Regions from separate parts of the Homo sapiens genome. Here region 1 is linked to region 2. Evidence: fine-mapped QTL for protein levels in blood plasma. A gene starts in region 2. The other region holds a variant in brackets. All regions are shown on one strand. Distances are between the middles of the regions.

Region 1 (5,374 bases), 540 kb before region 2:
CTAACTCTATAAATAAATTTGATAGCTTTTATCGGCATTAGATTAGATTTGTAAAGTAATTTAGACAGACCTGGCGTCTTCATGGTGTTAAACTGCCCTAAGAACAAGGGATCTCTTTCCACTTATTAGGTCTACTTTTTTGTCTTTCAGGGTTTTAAAGTTTTTTTCATAAAGGTTTTAGACATTTCTTAAGTTTATTCCTAAATATATTTTACCTTTATTGCTTTTGTAAATGAAGTTTGCTCTACTATTGTATCTTTTAACTGCTTATTATTTGCATATGTTAAGGTTGTTGATTTCTGTACTCGCTTTATATCTTGCTGACTAAATTGTTTTAAGTTAATTCTGTCATTGATTCTCTCGAGTTTTCTAGATAAATTATCACATAAACTGTAAATACAGTTTTACTTCTTTTCTAATTCTTACACTTCTTACTGATTTTTCTTGTCCATCTGCACTGGCAAATACCTATGGTACAATTTAAATGTTAGTATCTTTAGGATTAAAAAAAAGCCCTTGCAAGTAAGGAGGGGGGGGGGAAGAACAACCCAACTCAAAAAAAAAAAAAAAAGGGGGCTGGGCGTGGTGGCTCACGCCTGTAATCCCAGCACTTTGGGAGGCCGAGACGGGCGGATCACGAGGCCAGGAGATCGAGACCATCCTGGCTAACACAGTGAAAACCCGTCTCTACTAAAAATACAAAAAATTAGCCGGGCGTGGTGGCAGGTGCCTGTAGTCCCAGCTACTCGGGAGGCTGAGGCAGGAGAATGGCGTGAACCCAGGAGGCGGAGCCTGCAGTGAGCCGAGATCGGGCCACTGGACTCCAGCCTGGGCAACAGAGCGAGACTCCGTCTCAAAAAAAATAAATAAATAAAATAATAAAAAAAATAGGCTTAGGCAATGGACAGGTAGTTTACAGAAGCACAAATGGCCAGTAAACATATCTCCAAATGTCCAACCTCATTAGTAACAAAAGAAATAATACTTTTACCACCAAGATAAGGATAACACTGAAACATTTGTTTTCTCATCTTTCCCAAAAAGACTAAGTGGAATATGTTATTTTTAGTTTCAAAGTAGCTGCTCCTATTCTTTTGGTTTTTGTTTGTTTGTTTGTTTTTTTGAGACGGAGTGTTGGAGCATCGATCTGTCGCCTAGGCTGGAGTGCAGTGGCGCGATGTTGGCTCACTGCAACCTCCGCCTCCTGGGTTCAAGCAATTCTCCTGCCTCAGTCTCTCGCATAGCTGGTACTACAGGCGCACGCCACCACGCCTGGCTAATTTTTGTATTTTTAGTAGAGACGGGGTTTGGTCAGGCTGGTCTCAAACTCCTGACCTCAAGCAATCCACCTGCCTCGGCCTCCCAAAATGCTAGGATTACAGGTGTGAGCCACTGTGCCCGGCCAGCTGCTCCTATTCTTGGCTTATTTTTACAAAGTGGTTAGCATATGATCCATGAGTGGCACACCTGGGCTTTAAGGACCAGGGCCAGAACTCAGACCAAGTGACCTTACTTGTTAGGATTTTTCCATAGACAGACAGATAGGGACAGAGTGACTGAAAAGCAAATGTGTAGGTGGGTTGAGTCATAAAGCAGAGAGGTATTGTTCAAGGAATTCCTTGCAAGCCAACAAGCAGTCATGCCATTTTTCCTTAATTTCTAAGGTACTGACCTCTTGCAGAGGCAGCAACGACTAACTTCTGAAATAGGATATCACAACACTAATTAGGGCACTACTCTGTGCAGGGTGGAGAGGAAAAGGAGGGGATATTTTAATTTTCCATTTCACATTCCCTTGCCTTGATAAATTATGTTTCTTCTGCCTGGAATATCCAAATAATTATCCATCCTTCAAAATGGCTCAGACATCACCACCTCCATTCTGAAGCCCATTCTTGACACTGTATGCCTTCCCGTCTCCCTCTTCTGTGTCACCTCTGAACCTTGTTTTGGGCGGGGGGGAGAAAAACTCCAGCTTAGGCAACATGGTGAAACCCTGTCTCCACAAAAAATACAAAAATCATCCAGGCATGACAGGGTTTGTCTGTAGTCCCAGCTACTCGAGCTAAGGAGGGAGGATCGTTTGAGCCCAGGAGGCGGAGGTTGGAGTGAGACGAGATTGTGTCACTCCATTTCATCCTAGACAACAGAGCGGGACCACAGCGTCCCCCACCC[C/G]CCTCCCCCCAAAAAAAGACAAACAAGAAAAACAGAAGAAAAACTCCTGTGTTTTCATCTATGCTTCTCTATCAATCTAACATTTTTCTCAAAATATAGGAAGTCTACAATAAATGCTTGCTGAACTGAATTCAACTTACCTTCTACAGCATGAGGAATATATCAGAAATAAAATGATCTTGGTGTGCCAGTGCCAGCCATCACCAGATCAGAGATTAGATTTGGACAGACAGAAAAGTTCACAATTAGGGTGGCAAAGCGAGTTAGTACTGCATTTAGCTCCCAGCATTAAATCAGAAGAATCCATACTTAGAGTAAAAGTCATTAAGAACAATAACTGGGCCGGGCATGGTGGCTCACACCTGTAATCCCAGCACATTGAGAGGCCAGGGTGGGTGGATCACTTGAGGCCAGGAGTTTGAGGCCAGCCTGGCCAACACAGGGAAACCTCATCTTTATTAAAAATACAAAAATTAGCTGGGCACGGTGGTATGTGCCTGTAATCCTAGCTACTCGGGAGACTGAGGCACGAGAATTACTTTAACCCAGGAGGCGGAGGTTGCAATGAGCCAAGATAGCACCACTGCATTCCAGCCTGGGCAACAGAGTGAGACTCTGTCTCAAAAATAATAATAATAATAGACAAAGCGCAGTGGCTCACGCCTGTAATCCCAGCACTTTGGTAGGTCAAGGCAGGCGGATCACGAGGTCAGGAGCTCCAGACCAGCCTGGCCAATATGGTGAAACCCCGTCTCTATTAAAATACAAAAATTAGTTGGGTGTGGTGGCACGTGCCTGTAATCCCAGCTACTTGGGAGGCTGAGGCAGAAGAATCACTTGAACCCAGGAGGCGGAGGTTGCAGTGAGCTGAGATCACATCACTGCACTCCAGCCTGGGCAACAGAGTGAGACTCCGTCTCAAAAAAAATAAAATAAAATAAAATAAATAAACAATAATTAAGACCTTAAAATCTTAAAACCTATCTTTAAAATTTACAATACACATAAATTTTATTTTACTATAATGAAAGATTGAAAAAATACACATTGCAAAAAGATCTAAACATATATAAAGCTAAAGTGAAAACTTTCCCTAGACCCACCATTTCCCAAAAATACTCCTGCCTCAATAGTTTGGTATATATTTTTCCAGGTCTCCATGTCTATAAACATAGTAGCATATGTTTATATTACTATAACATAATAATGCTATAAATATTACAATTATAAACATATTATTTATAAAAATCAGATTATATGCTACATACTGTCTTGCCTTTATTATTTAAAAAGTATATTTTGGGCTGGACACAATGGTTCACCACTGTAATCCCAGCACTTGGGGGAGGCCAAGGCGGGAGGATTGCTTAAAACCAGGAGTTCGACACCAGCGTGGGCAACAAAGTGAGATCCCATCTCTACAAAAAATAAAATAAGTTAACCTGGCACAGTAGCATGTGCCTGTACTTCCAACTACTTAAGAGGCTGAGGCAGGAAGATTGCTTGAACCCAGGAGTTAGAAGCTGCACTGAGCCATGATTGTGCCACTGTACTCCAGCCTGAGTGACAGAGTGAGACCCTGTCTCAAAAAAAAAAAAAAAAGGATTTTGTACATCCTTCCATATTTGCACAAATACATCTACCTCATTTTAACGTTCATAAAATTCTACTGTGTGAACATTCTATGACTTATTTAACCATTGTATTATACACAATACTACAACAAACATCTTTGTATATGTATGTATATATCTTTGTGCACACGACTGTTTATATAAAATGAATTCCTAGAAGTAGAATTTCTGGATAAAGAACATGACTATTTAAAATTTTAATGATATTGCCAAACTGTTGGGCTATTACTTTTAAGACATTACCAACTTATTTTTAGCTCTGAAATGAAATAATTTTATACTGCATTTATACTGATTATACAATTGTAGTGTCCTTGGAATTTACTTAGTTGAATCACGATTGCATATTTAATTGAATCTATGGTGTCATCTTGTATAAAACATTCTGATTTTAGGTATGTTAAAAATGAGAAAAATGTCCTCCTTATATTAGAAGGAAAAATGATTCCTAGCTGTCTTAAAAAATGATTAATCACTTCTACTGAGAAAGTAACAGACAACAGCAAATCAAATTCTTACATTTATTAATTAAAAAGAGTACATTTCCAAAAGCATTTTTATATATGATATGAAATATGTAATGGCAAACTGGACAAAGCTAGGGAATTACACACATTAAGAAAGCTTTAGAAGGCCTGTAACATTTGGATAATTAGTAATTACAGAGCATGTTTTTCCCTGTCACAGGCATTCACAGCAACAGATTACAAAACGAATCAAGCCACCCAACTATTTTCTAACATGATAAACCTTGACCCATACACCAGTGTCAAAAAGAGATGTTCAGTTATCTATTAGAAAAGACTCTTATTGATAAGAACAGGCAGCTCTCTTAACTGAATTTGACTCACTGAACACCACACAATTCATCTTGATCTTTGATAAAGAAGTCACTTCTGGAGTTCAGTCCCCAGACACAAGTGACTTTGGACATCTCTCCCAGAAGCATGTGGAAGCTGGGTATCATTTTCCAGTATTCATGTTTGAGCTGAATAAGGTAATACGAATACTCCCTTAATGTCCTGTTTTATTTTTGTTGTTTTGTTTGAGGTACCTAACTTCTCAAGAGATTAACATCAAGGGAGTCAGAATGACTTACAATAAGATCACTTTCCATCTCAGGCATTAATTTGTGTTTTCTACATTTGAGACCATACTATGTGTGTGCAGGGAGGTGAATCATGCCTGGATGTGCAGGAAAAAGAAATATACTAATAAGGTAGTATACTTGAAATTAAGCTCCCTCTTGGCTAAAGCACAAAGAATGGAATCAGGTCAGATAATCTAAACTCTGAATAAAGGTAAGTTCTTTATACTGTGTCTGAAATGTGAACACTAAGTCTATTTAGATTTGATTATGATTGGTTGAAATGTTATAGGTGTTAATAAGCCTCCATCAAATAAGAAAGTGTTTTATAATTACACTTACCAGCATTAATATAAAATCCTTCTTACATAGCCATCACTTTATTCTGAATTCTAGCAACTTTTATTAAATATACCCTAAATTCTTCAGCTATTTTTGCACATGACATGTAAATGTAACCCTTTCTATGACTGGCGTA
Region 2 (5,317 bases):
GGGATGCAACTAGATGCACTGTGTATGCAGGTGCCAGGGGGCTCTCACCAATGGTTGTCTCACAGAACTTCTCATCAGCCACCTCGCTGGCAATGTTGGCCCCCATCAGCACACTCATGGGGATGCCGAGGCGCTCCCCAATCACTTCCGAGATGAGCTTCAGCCCATTGGGGCCCTCGTCTACCCCCTGAGCACAGGATGGAGCTCAGGCCAGGTGCCCTTTGGGCCCACCTGCGGGCTTCCGCCCAGAAATTCTGTCCCTTCCAAATCCATTGCTCATCTGTGTCCCTCCCGACAGGTCCTGCCCCATTCCAACCCAGCTCAAGTTTGCTGTGAGGAGGCCAGACAGCATGTGACCAACTGTCCTGCCACATACCCTCAACCAGTCTACTTCTCCAAGGCAACGGGTCCCCTCCACATCCCTAGGCAACCCCGCCTGACTGCCCCAACAAACTGCCATTCAGTGACCAGTCACTGCTCCAAACCAGCTACTCTTCACACTTCTCAAACCAGCCCGCTTCTCATATCTCCCAGGCATTCCTTTATACCTCCGAAACTCCCCGAGAGGACCTCCAAACCAATCTCGTCTCCTCCCTTCAGCCTCCCTTCCAGTGACCCCCAGCACCTCACTGCTTTCCTAAGCCTCTCCAGAGCCAACTGCCTCTCTTTTCTCCAGCAAACTCTTGGCCTGCGTCTGCCATTTTCTGTTCTCCTTGCTTCACCCACCCTGAACCCCACAACAGTGAGCCGCACCCTCCCCCATCCACATGAAGGTGTCCCTGGCACCTTAATAAGAGATATGCCAGTGGCGTTTGCCTTCAGATGGCCCTTGAGCTGGTCACAGATCTTGCCGATGAACTGATGGGGCACCACAAAGATCAGGATGTCAGCATCCTCTGCAGCCTGGACCACATCTGGGACAGCCACCTGTGGGGGTGACCAAGTGCTCGCGGGCCTGGCAGACCTCCCCTAGCCCCTGTGGAACCCTATTCAGGAGATCTGGGAGCCAAAGAGTGAGGCTGGTAGGGGAGCAGGAAGGCTTGTTTGGGACTGAATCTAGAAGGACTGAACTTGGAGGAATAAGACACTCTACTCCCTCCCCCCAGCTACCACTCTGTCTCCCTCCAGCTGTCCTGGGCTCTTGAGGACTCCTGGAAACCTCATCCCAGCACTCTCCTATCCCTTGGCTGTGGGACAGTGCGGGAGGCCAAAAGCAGCCTGGGCTTGGCAAAAGAAAGAGCTCAAATAAGATTTCATCACCCAGCTCCTCAGGAACCCCAGCTGGGAAGGGGGAGCCCCAGCCTTTCTGCTCTCTTCCCTGCTTCCCCTTTCCAGGTGGGGAGAGCCACGTGGATTTGACCAAAGACCGTAAGTCCAAGGAGCAGCCTCCAAGTCGGCTACTCACTCAGTGAATGAGTAACAGGATTAGTGCCGGAGGCAGGCACTACTGGACCCCAAGTCTGGGAGCCCAGTCTTTGGCTGCCATGGAGACCAACTTGTTCTCCCATCCCTTCCCCACCCACCCGCCTGGGAGCCTGTGAGGGGAAAGCATAGGTTCTCCTCAGTCCTCAGGAAAGGGCCCAGAGCAGCCCTCCTGAGACCTTCCCAAGTCCTGCTGCACCTGAAGCGGCCCTCTCAGCAGGAGGCACCTGTTGAGTAAGGTCGGCTCCAACTCCTGGCCCTCCCTTCCTCTCCCTGTTCTTCGCAGGGTGTTGGGGCTCACCACATTTGGGGGCAACTTGTGCCCTGGCAGGTATTTGACATTCTCATGCTGCGTGTTGATGATCTCAGTCAGCTTTTTGCCTCCAATGTCTTCCTCAAATACCCACATGGTCACCCGTGGGTCAAACTGTGCCAGCTGGGCTGCATTGCCACCCACGATCTTGGCGATGGCTGAGCCCCTGGTGGGAGGGGGAGCACAGGAAAGTACAGGAGGAGGGAACAGTGGCAGGAGTTGGGGCAGCGCCCCACCTCAGGATCTCACAGCAGCCCCCCAGGCTGTTCACTCCTACCTACCTTCCTTATCACCTCCACTCCCATGACAAATAGTCCCCAGTGACCTGGCAGTAGAAAGGAGACTCAGTCTCCTCACCCTTTGCTACTAGAGAAGGGAGCCCCACTTCTCATCTTCCCACCCCCAAACTCAAGCGGCTCTTCACATAGAGAGCTCTGGAGACGCCTTCCCATGGTGAACAGGTGCAGCTGCCCAGGAGGGCGGGGGTCAGGAGAGGGCCGGGCACCGTCTGTCCTGTGCTGCTATGATAGAAGATAGCAGCAGGGGCTGAACAGGAACCTGAGGGCCTTTCCCACCCATTCTGCCTCCTACCCACCTCTGTCTTGGGGGGCCTACCCTTCCCCCATATCACTTGACAGAGCTGCTTACCAGTTCCCGGAGCCTACAATGCAGACTTTCTTGCTAGCCATGGTGCCGCGTCTCTGCCTGAGCCGGCTCAGTGCCACACTCCCTAGCTCCTCTGCCGGCTAGGAGCATTTAACTCCACCACACGTGGGTGCAGCCAAGCCCCGCCCTCCAGGGGTGGGTGGGGAGGCTGGCGCCCAGGGAGATAGAGAGTCTGGCAGAGCCAGGGAAAGGAGAGACAGGGGTACAGACAGGTGTGGAACAGGAATGGGGCAGAGACTAGGCCCAGCTTTTTCTCCTGGGCTCATCGGCTGACAGTGCTGGCAAGCTTCTTCCCTTGGCCCCAGCCCAGCTTCCCACCATGGTCTCATTTTGAGGTCTGCTAAGAAAATAGCCCAGATAAGGAGCAGGTGACTGCTCTCCCTTGCTCCTTTCTGTCCCCCAGCATGAAATAAATTGTATTTAGCTTCAGTAGCAGCTAGGGGAATGCTTTTCAGAGGTAGGCTCCTCCATGACCCCCTATCCCCCCGCCAACCCTGCCACATATCCTCACAGGACCCTGTTCCACAGTTCTGTCCTCCAGCAGGCCCACGCTAGCTCCACTGCAGGGCTGGGGTGGGGGATGTGGGCCCACTTCCCACCTCTAAAGATGAGGCCACATAAGAGGTAAGGGCCTGCTTTGAGGACAGCCCAGCTCAAAAAAGGATGAGAGACTCCAGGTGCCTCAAAAGACAAGATTGTCTTGGTCACCCACAGAGGTCATCTTGGGGACTCATCCATGGGCCTCTCAGATGATCCCCACCCAAAAATGTGTTCTAGGGAAGGTGGGAAAGGTTAAAGTTAGAGAGCTCTGAGAATTGCGGTACACAATTTTGTTGTAGACTCTGGGCTTAAGAGGACAGGAGAGAATAGGAGGCAGGCAGAGTGCACACTGTCCTTGAAAGGCTTTGAGCCTCCTTCAACTCCTCCTCTCAGGGGTTTCCAAGGTACTGCCCCAGGGGCTTCATCAGGTGAATGGCTAGTTTGCAGAGGCCAGAAAAGGGGAAGGCAGGCAGTACCCGGGGCAGCTGTGTCCGTGGGGCTTTGTGGTCTCAGATGCTGTGATTGGGGGTAAGTTTGGTGTATGTTTTTTGGGGAAGGGCGAGAATGGAAGGAGCACCCTCAGCAGTTCAGGGCTCTGCATCGCCCACGGCCATCTGTTTGTCTAAGACGAGGGAAGCTCTGGTTTCCAGGCTGATCTGGAGAGTGGAGCAAGAGGCTCCTAACACTGTGCACCTTGGCCTAGAGGGCAGACACCACTGTGTGCTCATGTGCTGACCTCCTGGCTTGGCAGACGGCTAGGTGGGTGTTGCCATCCCCCTGGGCTGTTGCTGGCCAGCAACTGGTAACAAGCACTGGGCTACAGGGGAGTCTGTGTGCAACCCATGGGTAGGAGTAAGCAGGCAGGAGGTCAAGACTGGGGAGAAATGGCTTTCTAAGTTCCGGGGACTGCCCAGGAAAAACCAACCATATTCTCCTTCCATGGCCAGTAATTTCCCATAGGGAAACGGACATGAAATCAGTAGTTGGCTGTTTTTCTTAGCACAATGTTATACCTAATACAGAAACAGCCTCCCACAGACCACTCCTTTATTGCACTGGCACTGAGATGAAGGCTCCAGTGCCAGGCTGCCAGCTGGGAGCACTGATTACGGGTGATGGAAGAGAAAGGATGCTTCTGTCCCTGGCACAAATGATGGGAGCCCCAAAGAATGGATGTTTATGCATAAAATAACCCCCTTGTTTTTGCCTAAATGCTTCCCTCTCTCATTTTGCCCCTACAATCATTTTAGATAGTGTGGAGACTAAGAATGTGCTCATTTACATGGGAATAAAGAGGGTGCAGAGATTCAGAATCGGCTCATCACAGGAAGTTATCTGTATCACTAGAGCTCTTTTCCCAAGAGCAAACTGTAGATTTGCTTGAAATTAATAATGGTTCATCAGCCATTCATTACACATGTAATTAGCCTGGGTAAAAACAGATGCCATTTCAATGTCCTTGACATCAATTTTCTCCACTCCTAGTTATCGGCCCAACCACTCCTCTCTGCTTTCCCTTCTCAAGTCTGATAAACCCCAAGTTCCGGAGTAGGAACAGTGGTTGGATTTTTTGGTGGGTTTGATTACATATATTGAACAGGCAATACTAGAATGTTCCCATCCAAACAGGCAAAGGATAATTTTTAAACTACAACTTTGGAAAGTGGTTGTACTCTGATCCTATATTCCAAACCCCATTCTTGCATAATGACAAAGGAAAAAAGTCATGAGCCTCCAAGTGGGAAGCAGGCAGAACTGCAGGCGAGTTTCAAGTGATTGCTAATGGGAATCCCTCCTGAGCTGTCTTCCAAACTCTGCCAAGGAGGGGCTAGTTGTCTACAGTATGAGGATGACAACACAGAACTTCCATGGTGCTCTTAAGAACCAGCTACTCAGGAGGCTGAGGCAGGAAAATCACTTGAACCTGGGAGGCGGAGGTTGCAGTAAGCCGAGAACGCGCCATTGCACTCCAGCCTGGGGAACAAGAACACAACTCCATCTCAAAACAGGCAAACAAAAACTGAACTCTTATTTGAACCATGAAAGCGGAACCTTAGAGTAGCAGGCACAGGCTGGGCACGGTGGTTCACACCTGTAATCCCAGCACTTTGGGAGACCGAGGCGGGCGGATCACGAGGTCAGGAGATCGAGACCATCCTGGCTAACACGGTGAAACCCTGTCTCTACTAAAAAATACAAAAAATTAGCCGGGCATGGTGGCAGGCGCCTGTAGTCCCAGCTACTCGGGAGGCTGAGGCAGGAGAATGGCGTGAACCCAGGAGGCAGAGCTTGCAGTGAGCCAAGATCGCGCTACTGCACTCCAGCCTGGGCAACAGTGAGACTCCGTCTAAAAAAAAAAAAAAAAAAAGAGTAGCA

Direction of the effects. Positions count from the first base shown, and alleles are read on the strand shown. Strength reflects both the effect of a copy and how common the allele is.
For the plasma level of the protein whose gene starts at base 2,467 in region 2, allele C in region 1 goes with a higher level than allele G (moderate association).

The links. A credible set is the group of variants that fine-mapping cannot tell apart. PIP is the posterior inclusion probability: the model's chance that the variant is causal. Protein levels are from antibody-based Olink assays in UK Biobank. Linkage for the fine-mapping came from a reference panel and not from the study's own genotypes, which makes the PIPs less certain.
Region 1: its variant is the best candidate, but not a certain one, in a credible set for the plasma level of the GPD1 protein (UK Biobank, PIP 0.84).

What each region holds. Positions count from the first base shown.
Region 1 is chr12:50,643,863-50,649,236 of GRCh38, reverse strand. All of the region lies in intron 3 of DIP2B (disco interacting protein 2 homolog B), which reads right to left. Among named protein-coding and RNA genes, the nearest start is that of ATF1, 120 kb to the left of the region's middle. The variant C/G (reference allele first, on the strand shown) is at 2,176.
Region 2 is chr12:50,101,158-50,106,474 of GRCh38, reverse strand. GPD1 (glycerol-3-phosphate dehydrogenase 1) reads right to left here and starts at 2,467. Exons shown (of 8, transcript NM_005276.4): 1 at 2,384-2,467; 2 at 1,724-1,901; 3 at 787-927; 4 at 49-187. The coding sequence starts at 2,424. RefSeq lists an enhancer at 3,408-3,457.